Linked DNA regions of Homo sapiens. The protein of the gene in region 1 interacts with the protein of each later gene in a biochemical or structural test. Each region holds a gene or a part of one and is shown in the gene's direction. Other genes may lie near its edges. The genes, in order: DIAPH3, NCKIPSD and PDCD6.

Evidence for each region.
Region 2: the proteins of DIAPH3 (region 1) and NCKIPSD form a complex in vitro, tested with the Homo sapiens proteins (one study listed by BioGRID).
Region 3: the proteins of DIAPH3 (region 1) and PDCD6 interact in far-western blotting, tested with the Homo sapiens proteins (one study listed by BioGRID).

What each region holds. Positions count from the first base shown.
Region 1 is NC_000013.11:60,157,305-60,161,052, reverse strand, and holds part of DIAPH3 (protein diaphanous homolog 3), read left to right. Parts: intron 1-3,748. UniProt on the Homo sapiens protein: Actin nucleation and elongation factor required for the assembly of F-actin structures, such as actin cables and stress fibers. Required for cytokinesis, stress fiber formation and transcriptional activation of the serum response factor.
Region 2 is NC_000003.12:48,679,281-48,683,028, reverse strand, and holds part of NCKIPSD (NCK-interacting protein with SH3 domain), read left to right. Parts: intron 1-16; coding exon 17-126; intron 127-476; coding exon 477-681; intron 682-872; coding exon 873-984; intron 985-1,248; coding exon 1,249-1,742; intron 1,743-2,799; coding exon 2,800-2,970; intron 2,971-3,141; coding exon 3,142-3,228; intron 3,229-3,315; coding exon 3,316-3,454; intron 3,455-3,571; coding exon 3,572-3,652; intron 3,653-3,748. UniProt on the Homo sapiens protein: Has an important role in stress fiber formation induced by active diaphanous protein homolog 1 (DRF1). Induces microspike formation, in vivo. In vitro, stimulates N-WASP-induced ARP2/3 complex activation in the absence of CDC42.
Region 3 is NC_000005.10:302,552-306,299, forward strand, and holds part of PDCD6 (programmed cell death protein 6), read left to right. Parts: intron 1-1,625; coding exon 1,626-1,670; intron 1,671-3,748. UniProt on the Homo sapiens protein: Calcium sensor that plays a key role in processes such as endoplasmic reticulum (ER)-Golgi vesicular transport, endosomal biogenesis or membrane repair.

The sequences.
Region 1 (3,748 bases):
CCCTCCTATCTTAGTGTAAGAAAGCAGGAGCTCTGGTACCCGCTGAAATCTTGTTTTACTTTGAGTCCTGTTAAAGTTGGCAAATTCTTGTTTTCTACCAAATGTATAGTTGCGGGCTTCAAGTCACTTGTGAGTTGGGTAAAAGAGTTTGTAGCTTAGATATCTCTTCCCATAGATAAGTATAAATAGTAGAAATTAGTCTATTGTAATTGTATGATACTTTGGCTGTGCTACGAATCAATTGACTTTGGGATGCTTGTGAATTAACCAACTTGGTCTCATTTGAAAATATCTTAAGCCGTGAGCATTGAGATGGTAGGGATAGCTACTGGGGCATAGAAGAGAGATGGAGGAGGCTGAGAGGACAGGGCAAGTATCTGGGTGGAGACTTTGTGAAGGCAGATAAAATTCCGTAGGAATTAAACTTGGAACCTGCCCTAGGCCACACTCAATACCTGGACCTGAGTCCTATATCCTTTGTAGAACAGAACAGTTGTCCTACAGATTGTGGAAAGCCTTTCAGTAATACCTGTTTCTCATTACTCTTGGCAACACACAGGTAGTGGTGGCAGAGCAGGACATGTGGCTTCTAGAAGTGTCCATCTCTAGGATGTAGGTCAGTCCATTCAAAGGGAGCCTGTAAATTGGTGGTCCAAGTTGATGAAGGAGTTCTTTTTAATTAGGAGAGTCCTCTAAAAGTTCTCACAGACTTCAGTGTAAATCGTCTAATCGTTTCCATCAAATAGATTGTTAATTATTGATTGATTATGTCATTGTAGTACCTTCAGTGTTGGTTTTGAGATTTTTCTTTTCTTTTTTTTCTTTTTTTGAGACGGAGTCTTGCTCTGTCGCCCAGGCTGGAGTGCAGAGGCGTGATCTCGGCTCACTGCAAGCTCCGCCTCTCGGGTTCATGCCATTCTCCTGCCTCAGCCTCCCGAGTAGTTGGGACTACAGGTGCCCACCGCAACGCCCGGCTAATTTTTTGTATTTTTAGTGGAGACGGGGTTAACCGTGTTAACCAGGATGGTCTCGAACTCCTGACCTCGTGATCCGCCCACCTCGGCCTCCCAAAGTGCTGGGATTACAGGCGTGAGCCACCGCGCCTGGCCGGTTTTGAGATTTTTTCACCTTGTCCTTTAATTTCTGTATATTTACCATGTTTGGGCATTGATGGTAATACTAGTTAACCTTTCTGAGTGAGCCAAGCACTGTTCTAGGTGCGTTGTAATTATCAACTCCTTTAATTCTTAGAACAACCTTGTGAGGTAGGTAGTATTATTAATCTTGTTTGCCATAGGAGGAAACCAAGGTACACAGAGATTAAGCTGCCTAAAATCACACAGCTGCCAGTTCATGAGGCTGAGATTTGAATCTAGGCAAGCTGGCTTCAGAGTATACATTCTTTCTTTCTTTCTTTTTTTTTTTTTGTGAGACAAAGTCTCATTCTGTTGCCCAGACAGGAGTGCAGTGGCACAATCTTGGCTCACTGCAACCTCTACCTCCTGGGCTCAAGCAGTTCTCCTGCCTCAGCCTTCTAGTAACTGGGATTACAGGCACGTGTCACTACGCCCGGCTAATTTTGTATTTTTAGTAGAGATGAGGCTTCACCATGTTGGCCAGGCAGGTCTTGAACTCCTGACCTCAAGTGATCCACCCGCTTCGGCCTCCCAAAGTGCTGGGATTACAGGCGTGAGCCATCGCACCTGGCCTAGAATACACATTCTTAATCACTGTCCTGAATTCTCTCCCATAGCTGTTGGGAACTTTAATCTTTACTGCTTCTTTTCTCATCCAGGAACCATTAGCAATAATTAGTGATGCCTTTAATTAATATATAATATGAATATAGAATTGATTTTCTGATTATAGGCAGGCTGCGAGGTGAGAAGATATACAAGGTTGGAGAATTTTTGTTGATTGTACACGTAGTAGGAATTTGAGTACAGATGAAATCCCAGTAAGCTTAATGAGATTAGTGCATGTTTGCCAATTACTTTGGGTTATTTGGAAGCAGGTGTAGTAGGCCGAACAATGATCTTCTGAAAGGTAGACACTCCTTAATCCCTGGAACCTGTGAATGTTACCTTATATGGCAAAAAATGACTTTACAGGTTATTTGGTTTTTTTTTTTTTTTTTTTTTTTTTTAAGAGGGGCCAGGCAGGAGCAACAATTAAACCCAATGTATGACTGTGCTGTGGTGTAACTTCTGACAGCAGGATGTCTGAAAGAGATACTGCTCTTTGCTCTTCCAGCCCCTGAGAGACAGGGTATCTCATAGCCTCCAACCTCCTGCTGGGAGGATGAGGAACCATCCTTCAGTGCTTGCCTGCCTGAGTTTGGGCTGCCACTCTAGAACTCCCTGCTCAGCTTCCCAGCCAGTCCAGATTGTGGAATGTGGCTGCTTCTCCCCTTTTAGCTGGGGCAACCACAGGTGGTTCAAGCAACCTCTGCCTGGGCCTGTTGAACTCCACCAGGAGGAGGCAGCCCCAAAGTTCCACACATCTGGACATCTGGGGCCTTGGACAGTGATATGGTCAGCACATGGAGATTGAATCTATGTCTGAGGTGGATACACATTAACTAAGCTCACAAGCTTAATGAATAAGCTGTAACCCAACTCATTAATGTATACCAGCCAGTGTGTTGCAGCCAAATCCTTCCAGGCATGCAGGCCCCAGAACAAAGAGGATTAACAAAGAGCAGATGAAAACAATTCTAGCCAGTAAGCTAAAGGAGAAATCTGCTGGGGAATTCTGAGAAAGATGTCTTTGCTCTGTAAAAAGGAACTAACAAAAACTTTGCATCCAGTATTGGCTGAGATCTCATTGGACCACAGACCTCTCACATGACAAAATTATAAAAAGCAACTATTAAAACACTGGAGAGTGATCAAAAGACATGGCTATTGGAGACAATACTTGGAAGAAGGGACTAGCACTGGATAAGTTTGTCATTTTTTGTAGCTTTTTGCATAAGGGAAGCCCCTAATCAGGGTCATGTGGGGTGGTTAAAACTAGAATATAAGCCCACAGTTGTACTGGCATAAAAAACCAGAGGGCAGAGTTCTGGTGACCATATAGCTGATAAATGAGGAGAAAATCCTGGAGAGGAGAAGGAGCCACAAATGGGTAGCCCCAAATTCTGTGTGTAGAGTCCTCAAATTTCTGAACCCTACATGTATGGGACAGACTCCAAGCAGCACAGGTAGGGCTAACATATCTGAACTAAGATTTCAGGTCCCATCCAGCGGATGGGACAGTATGTGCAGTTTGAGAGTTCAGCCAAGTTAACTGCCTGCTAAAACAAACACAAAAAGCAATACTTCTCAGAAGAATAGAAGGAATTCAGAGTCCCTACACCATACATTCACAATGTTCAGGATACAGTGCAAAGGTATTTGACATTAGGAAAAAACAGGAAAATGTGACCCATACAAACAAGAAAAAGGAATCAATGGAGACCAGTCTCAAGATAACTCAGTTGTAAGCATTAATAGACAAGGATTTTAAAGCAGTTGTATAACCATATTTAAGAATATAAATGAAATATGCTCACAATGAATGAAATGATAGGAAACCTCTGTAGAGAAACAGAAACTATAAAAAGACCACAGTGGAAATTCTAGCATTGAAAAATACAACATCTGAAAGAAAAAGGCTAACAAGAAGCAATAGCCCATTTTTTGCCTTTGGCCATAGTCAGGATGTGATGCTTATTTTGCCATAGTCTTCTGGTCATGAGGATAGC
Region 2 (3,748 bases), on another chromosome or scaffold:
CCCCTGCCCCCCCCAGGGCCTGGAGCAGGATGTCCTCCAGGCCATTGACCGGGCCATCGAGGCTGTACACAACACAGCCATGCGGGATGGTGGCAAGTACAGCCTGGAACAGCGTGGAGTCCTCCAGTGAGTGTTGAGGGGAGTGAAGTGGGACCTCCCGGTGAGCATGGTGGGGTGGGGTTCTTCAATGAGTGTCATGGGGCAGGTGGGCCTGGGAAATGCGAGGGTTGGCAAGGGTGGTGGGGGAATGGCACCTCCCAGTGAGCAAGGTGGGGTCGGGTCCTTCAGTGAGCACCAGGGGTGTGCAGAGCGCAGGACTGAGGATAGTATGGGGTACTGTAGGCTGGGGTGGAGCATGGAGGAGATGGGGATGTCTGAGGGGCCTGGGCTATGGGGTCCCAGCATCCCACAGGGGCATATGAGGACTTTGAGCTGTGAGATGCAACCCCCCAATAGTCTTCCTGTCCTTCCATCAGGAAGCTGATCCACCACCGGAAAGAGACCCTGTCACGCAGAGGCCCTTCAGCCTCCAGTGTTGCAGTTATGACCTCATCAACCAGTGACCACCACTTGGATGCTGCTGCAGCCAGGCAGCCCAATGGGGTGTGTCGAGCTGGGTTCGAGCGGCAGCACAGCCTACCCAGTTCTGAGCATCTTGGGGCAGATGGAGGCCTCTACCAGGTGTGTGGGGAGGACATCGTGGAGAAGGGAGGTGGGTGGAACTTGAGGCTTCATCCAGAGGCTCAAGGGGTCCACTCAGGAGTGATGCGGCCCAGAGCCATAGTCCTGCCCACAGCCAGGGCTCAGGGCCCGAGCCTCGCTGACGCTCTAGATGTCAGTCTGTCCTCCAAGATCCTACTTCCATCTTCCAGATCCCACTTCCATCTTCCCAGATCCCACCACAGCCTCGCCGAGCAGCACCCACCACACCGCCCCCACCAGTGAAGCGCCGAGACCGCGAGGCCCTGATGGCCTCTGGGAGTGGTAAGAAGGCAGGGTTAGGGGAATTCAGGTGGAGGCACCCTATGCTTGGAATGGTTGTGCTGCCTGTGTCAGGGAAATGGAGGCTCTAAGCTGGGGAAGAGGACAGGACTCCCATTTTGGGGCAATTAGGGGCTCTGGGCTTTGTGAGGAGGCAGTGCCTAGCAGAGAAACTAGGCCCTGTGTTAGGGGACAGGGGATCTGGGCTGTGAAGGGTATGGTTTTCCAGGGGGCTGCCCTGGCCCAGCTTCTACTCACTGCTCGCAGGTGGCCACAACACCATGCCCTCCGGGGGTAACTCTGTGTCCAGCGGCTCCTCAGTCAGCAGCACCTCCCTGGACACGCTCTATACCAGCTCCAGCCCATCTGAACCAGGCTCCAGCTGCTCACCCACACCCCCACCTGTGCCCCGCCGAGGCACCCACACCACCGTGTCCCAAGTCCAGCCCCCTCCCTCCAAGGCATCAGCACCTGAACCCCCTGCAGAAGAAGAAGTGGCAACTGGTACAACCTCAGCCTCTGATGACCTGGAAGCCCTGGGTACACTGAGCCTGGGGACCACAGAGGAGAAGGCAGCAGCTGAGGCGGCTGTGCCCAGGACCATTGGGGCCGAGCTGATGGAGCTGGTGCGGAGAAACACTGGCCTGAGCCACGAATTATGCCGGGTGGCCATCGGCATCATAGTGGGTCACATCCAGGCCTCGGTGCCGGCCAGCTCACCAGTCATGGAGCAGGTCCTCCTCTCACTCGTAGAGGGCAAGGTGAGGGTGGGCGGCACAGCAGGGCCACCCTGCTACCCACCCTGTTCCCACCGTCACACACTTGTCCAGCCTGTACATTACAGGTATTTCTCAAGCTCTGGCTCTGAGCTCTTACTGTGCTGGGCACTGGGGACGTTGAGCTGATTTCTGAAGCAGAAAGGAAGGACAAGCATTCCAGGCAGATGCGCAGCCTGGACAAGGGCCACAAGGCAGGACTGAGCCTGGCTTGTGGGAGGAAGTGGAACAAGGCCTGCAGGACTGGAACACAGGGAGTGAGGGAGTGGGTGCTGTAGGAGGAGGTGAGACCTGGGGCAGGTGACAGATAAGACGACATGCGGGTGGCCAAGAGTTCTGTCTGGCTGCAGGGAAGGAATGGACACGGCGTGGGTGAGGGTAGTGCCTTGCTGACCTTGGCAGTAAGAGACATGGGTGCTGGGAGAGCTGGGATGGAGTCCTAGGTGCTGACATGGATGAGAGGGAGTGAGGTGTGTGGGCATCATGGGATGGGTGGGATCCTTGGCACTCATGAGCAGGATGGGGGCAGTGAGCCCAGCATACATGATGGGGGTCAGACAGACCAAAGGTCCCTCTTTAGTGCTCCATGGTTCCTGTTACACTTCTGGTTTGGGTGTTGGGGAGTGGGCCAATGGGCTTGGCTGTGCTGGGCACAACAGCTAGTGCCTGGTCAGCAGGGTTCAAGGAAAATGTGGCAAGTTGGTAGATGACAGGCCTGTGCCATTTTGTGTGGAATGGGAGAGTGAGGTCTCAGAGTCACATTCTGGCAGTGACAGAGTTCATGGCCCTCCTAGTTGGGGGTGTTTATCCAGGTCTGGGATGAGAGGCGAGCTGTTGAAAACCCCCTACAGATGAGTCTCCCGTTGACTCCTGTCCTGGGAGGTCATCAAGACTGGAGTTGAGCCTCCTGTCCAGTGTGGGCCAGGAGGGACTTGAGTTCATGGAGTAAAAGTCCACAGATGGACTCTCCAGGCCTTGGAGGCTCCCTGGAGATGGTGAGGGCAGGGAGTGTGCTGAGTCATGCCTTGCCCTCTCCCTCTAGGACCTCAGCATGGCCCTGCCCTCAGGGCAGGTCTGCCACGACCAGCAGAGGCTGGAGGTGATCTTTGCAGACCTGGCTCGCCGGAAGGACGACGCCCAGCAGCGCAGTTGGGCACTATATGAGGATGAGGGTGTCATCCGCTGCTACCTAGAGGAGCTGCTGCATATTCTGGTAAGGGTGGGGTCCCACACACATACCCCACATGGGGAACAGTGGCCCCCACCCTGTAGCATCCCTCACAGTGCTAGGAGTCTCCCCTACACATATGTGCTCAGCCCTCTCTTGTGCGGCTGCACAGCTCCGCTCATGGTGGCTGATGCTCTCACTTCCTCATTTCTGTAGACTGATGCAGACCCTGAAGTTTGCAAGAAAATGTGCAAGAGAAACGAGTTCGAGTCTGTCCTGGCCTTGGTGGCCTATTACCAAATGGTATGTGCAGGATGGAGGGGAGGGGTAATGGAGAGACCTAGATAGTGGGGGAGTTCCAGGCACTGAGCACGCAGGGTTCCCTGCCAGGAACACCGAGCATCACTGCGGCTGCTGCTCCTCAAGTGCTTTGGCGCCATGTGCAGCCTGGATGCAGCCATCATCTCCACGCTTGTGTCATCCGTGCTGCCTGTAGAGCTGGCGAGGGACATGCAGACAGACACGCAGGGTGAGGCTGGAGGGCGGGGTAGGAGGGAACTTCCTGCTATCTGGAGGGTGTTCCTGCCATCTGCTGGGGTTTCCTGCCATCTTTGGGGACTCTGACTGCCTGCCTTGTCCCCCCCAGACCACCAGAAACTCTGTTACTCTGCCCTCATCCTGGCCATGGTCTTCTCCATGGGAGAGGCAGTGCCCTATGCACACTATGGTAAGAATGCAGTAACCGACCAGCTGATCACAGGTCCTAAGCCAGGGCCCATTGCCCGAGGGCCTGGGACCTGCTGACTACACAGCCTAGCAGGGA
Region 3 (3,748 bases), on another chromosome or scaffold:
AGCACAGCTTCCCTGCATAACTGCTGGAGGGCGGGTCATCGAGTGCTGCTCTGTGTGTATGCCATGGGTTCAGGTGCACCTGCCTTTGTGGGAAGAGCACAGCTTCCCCGCATAACTGCTGGAGGGTGGGTCATCGAGTGCTGCTGTGTGTGTGGGCCACGGGTTCAGGTGCACCTGCCTTTGTGGGGAGAGCACAGCTTCCCTGCATAACTGCTGGAGGGTGGGTCATCGAGTGCTGTGTGTGTGGGCCACAGGTTCAGGTGCACCTGCCTTTGTGGGGAGAGCACAGCTTCCCTGCATAACTGCTGGAGGGCGGATCATTGAGTGCTGCTCTGTGTGTATGCCTCAGGTTCAGGTGCACCTGCCTTTGTGGGAAGAGCACAGCTTCCCTGCATAACTGCTGGAGGGCGGGATCTTCCCAAGGGGAAGTTGGGAGGTGCTCAGGCGGAGCAAATGGATTTAACTTCTGGGCTGGGAGAATGTGGTACCCCCGTGGAAGTCTCCCTGAGGAAGGAAAGGAAGGAGCTGGAGGGAGGGTGTGTGTGTCTTAGGAGGGGACGCACTTCAGGTGAGAGCGGGCATGGCACTAGGAGGAGCCCCATGAGCCCAGAGTGGTGGCACGTAGAGGCCTAAGGGACCATGCCAGCAGACCCCACCGCCCGTGCTCCACCAGGAGCCTGACATTGTTCTCTGAGATCAGGGGGCTGTCTCTGTGTACTGCCCAGGACTGTGGCATTTTTGTGCATAAAAAAAAAAAAAAACTGTGTGTCTAACACAGACGGGGTATGAGGAGAGCCACTGGTCTCTCCTGACCTTAAAAATATTTTTTTAGTTCATTTTTAGTGAGTATGGAAATTACTGAAGGTACAAATCACTCTGAAGATAGGTTCTTGTGTGCGAAGGTCATCAGTGAATCTTCATTCTCAGAGTTGATAAATGGTTGTGAGCGCTCAAGGGTATCAGATTCAACGATGAGTCTGAGGATAGTACAGCTTTCCTATTCAGTTTCAAGGAAAATCATATAAAGCCCAGACCGTAATTTGTCAGGAATGTTTGAAGTGTGGTGTGATGGATGTCTTCACCGTGCTTTAGGATGATTACTGAGGGAGAACGGAAGGAAGGGGTCTGGTACTTGCACCTTTCAGTAGAATTAGTGTGAATGCCACAGCGACCAAGCTATGTTCAGGTGTCTGCAGGCAGTGGTGGCCTTGATGATGGATTTTCTGAAATGGGAATTCGTGAAGTCCTCTAACAAAACTAAGTGCGAACTTCTCAACTTAGCTGGTGACTGCATCCTTGAAAAATTCTGTGTGTAAAATGATACAGAACCATTTCTTGGTTATCTGTTAAATAAGAGTGCATGTCCAGCCGCGATGACTGTGGACGGCCTTGGAGGTCTGGGAGGCCACGAAGGACTCCCACACACAGCAGGGTGTGAACCCACCAGGCAGTGCTTTGGCCCCCTCCCAGGAGTCATGGCAGCCGACACGTCACCTGGAGTGTCTAGAAAACCACTACCTTAGAGCCCCCACTGCTTTTCCTGGTGCCTCCAGGTATAGATCACAAACTCAGTGTCCCAGAAAGATTTTCCTTTTACTTTAACTCCTGTTGTTGTTTGTTTTCAGGCACGTGGACTCCCTTTAATCCAGTGACTGTCAGGTCGATCATATGTAAGTATCGGCAGACGGACCAACCTGGGCTGCTTTGTATCCGACCCGCTTGGGTACCCGCTTGTGTTTCCTTTGTCTGTGGGTCCGTATCACTTTGCTCCCTTCTGGAATTCCACTTAGATGAGCGTCGGCCCTTTCATCCCTCTCCCTCCGTCTCTGTACCTTTTCACATCTCTCCGTGTATGTTTGCTCTATTCTTGATTCTGTTTATTTTTAATGTACGGTGTAACCTGTCCTTTCAGTTTCTAATTCTAAAGATGACATATATTTAAAATTTCTAAATTATTAGTTACTTTCACATCTTATCTGGGTGTTTTTGATAGACATTGCTTATTTATTTTTGTGATTCCATTCTTTATTCAAATATTTCATATGATAGTCTTCAGTTTTAAGAACATGCTTTTTTGAAAAGCGCTAGATATTTGTGACATGGAGCTCCTTGACTGTGTTTGAAGTCCTTGGGAGGGTGGTCTACAGCCAGATATTTTTCCTGCTCAAGCCCACACAGAGTGACCAACTTCCTTGATGCTTCTGTAATTTTTGTTTGTTTTGTGGGTTCATGTGTAGCCTTAATGTGAGGGTCTGCATCATTTCTTTGGGTCCAGGGTCTCCCCAGCTGTATAGGCAGCTGGGTTTTTGTTTGTTTCTTTTAAGAGACAGGGTGTCCCTGTGCTGCCCAGGCCTGGTCTGGAATTCCTGGGCTCACGCAATCCTCCTGCCTCAGCCTCCCAAAAAGTGGGGATTACAGGTGTGCACCCCCATGCCCAGACGGTAGCCGGGGTGTGAGCTGAGGCTCCAGGCGCAGGCAGGTGTTCAGGAGAGTCGTGCTGTGTCTCCATCCCCCGTAGCCAGGTGGGAGCTGCAGCTCCAGGGGCAGGCAGGCCTGGGAGGCAGGTGTTCAGGAGAGTCATGTTTCCATCCCTACCCGACTTGATTTCTGGAAGGTTCCCTTTGCTGGGAGGTGCAGCCCCCTTCAGACCTCTTTAATATGGAATCCCAGGTTCAGTTCTGCCTCACAGGGACCATGGCATTGTGTCTCGAGGTTTCCCAGAGCGGCCTGGGGCTCATTCCCTCGCCTCCCATCCATGCACGTGTTTTAGTCTTGTGAGGATTCCCTGAGTTCCTTGCGGAGCCTGTGTGTGGTGAGGTGTCTGAGTCCTAGTGTGGGTGTAGCTGGGGGCTTTTCCAGATGACTGTGCCCTGCTGGTCGTGCATATGTTGCTACGTCACACTGATGGAGGGAGAGAAAACTTGGAAGTGTAGTAGTGGCAGGGCTCAGCCTTTAGTGCTAGAAAAGGTGTTGATACATGGGGAGCTACCTCCCCACCGGAGAGGAATGGCCTGGGAGCCACTCCTCTGCGGAGCCCTTACCCTGGGGTGCAGCTCACCCAGCATCCTTCCCTGCTGGTGTGTGGTGCGCAGTGGGTCCTGCACGCAACAGCATCGTCCACACACACTGCACACATCGTGGAATGGTCGTATGAAAAACAGCCCCTGGTCCACACACCACACACGTCGTGGAACGGTGCACGTCGTGGAACGGTTGTGTGAAAAACAGCCACTGGTTGCACACAGGGTTGTGGACTGTTGGGAAGAAACATCGATGCTGTTTCTCACATGATTTTTCATCCTGTGGATTTTCATTTAATTGTAACATATTTCTGATCAAACCAGGAGTAGTCTTATTGCAGTCCTGTATTAACCTCTGTTCTTGAAAAGAGACCACGTGATTTATCATTTTCTCTGCAGCAGTAATTCACACTGAATTTTTCTATGTTTTTTAGCCATATTGCAACTACATATAAAGGTAGTTATAGATTCTTTTGTATTTGGACCTGGAGTTAGACTGAAAGCAAATAGGACATAGGCGAGGGTCTGTTTCTAATTAAAGCAGGTTTTCCTGACAGGGCTGTTCCAAGACTCCACCAGTGCTGTGGGCCCTGGAGAGTCAGAGGGTCAGCTCTGGGAATTAGATTCGCGTTCTAGGCCGAGACCCAGGAGCCAGGGGAGCTGGGGCCACTTACCTTCCCCGTGCCTCGGAAGCTGAGTGTGAAGCTCTGCTCTTCTTTCTGTCGTGG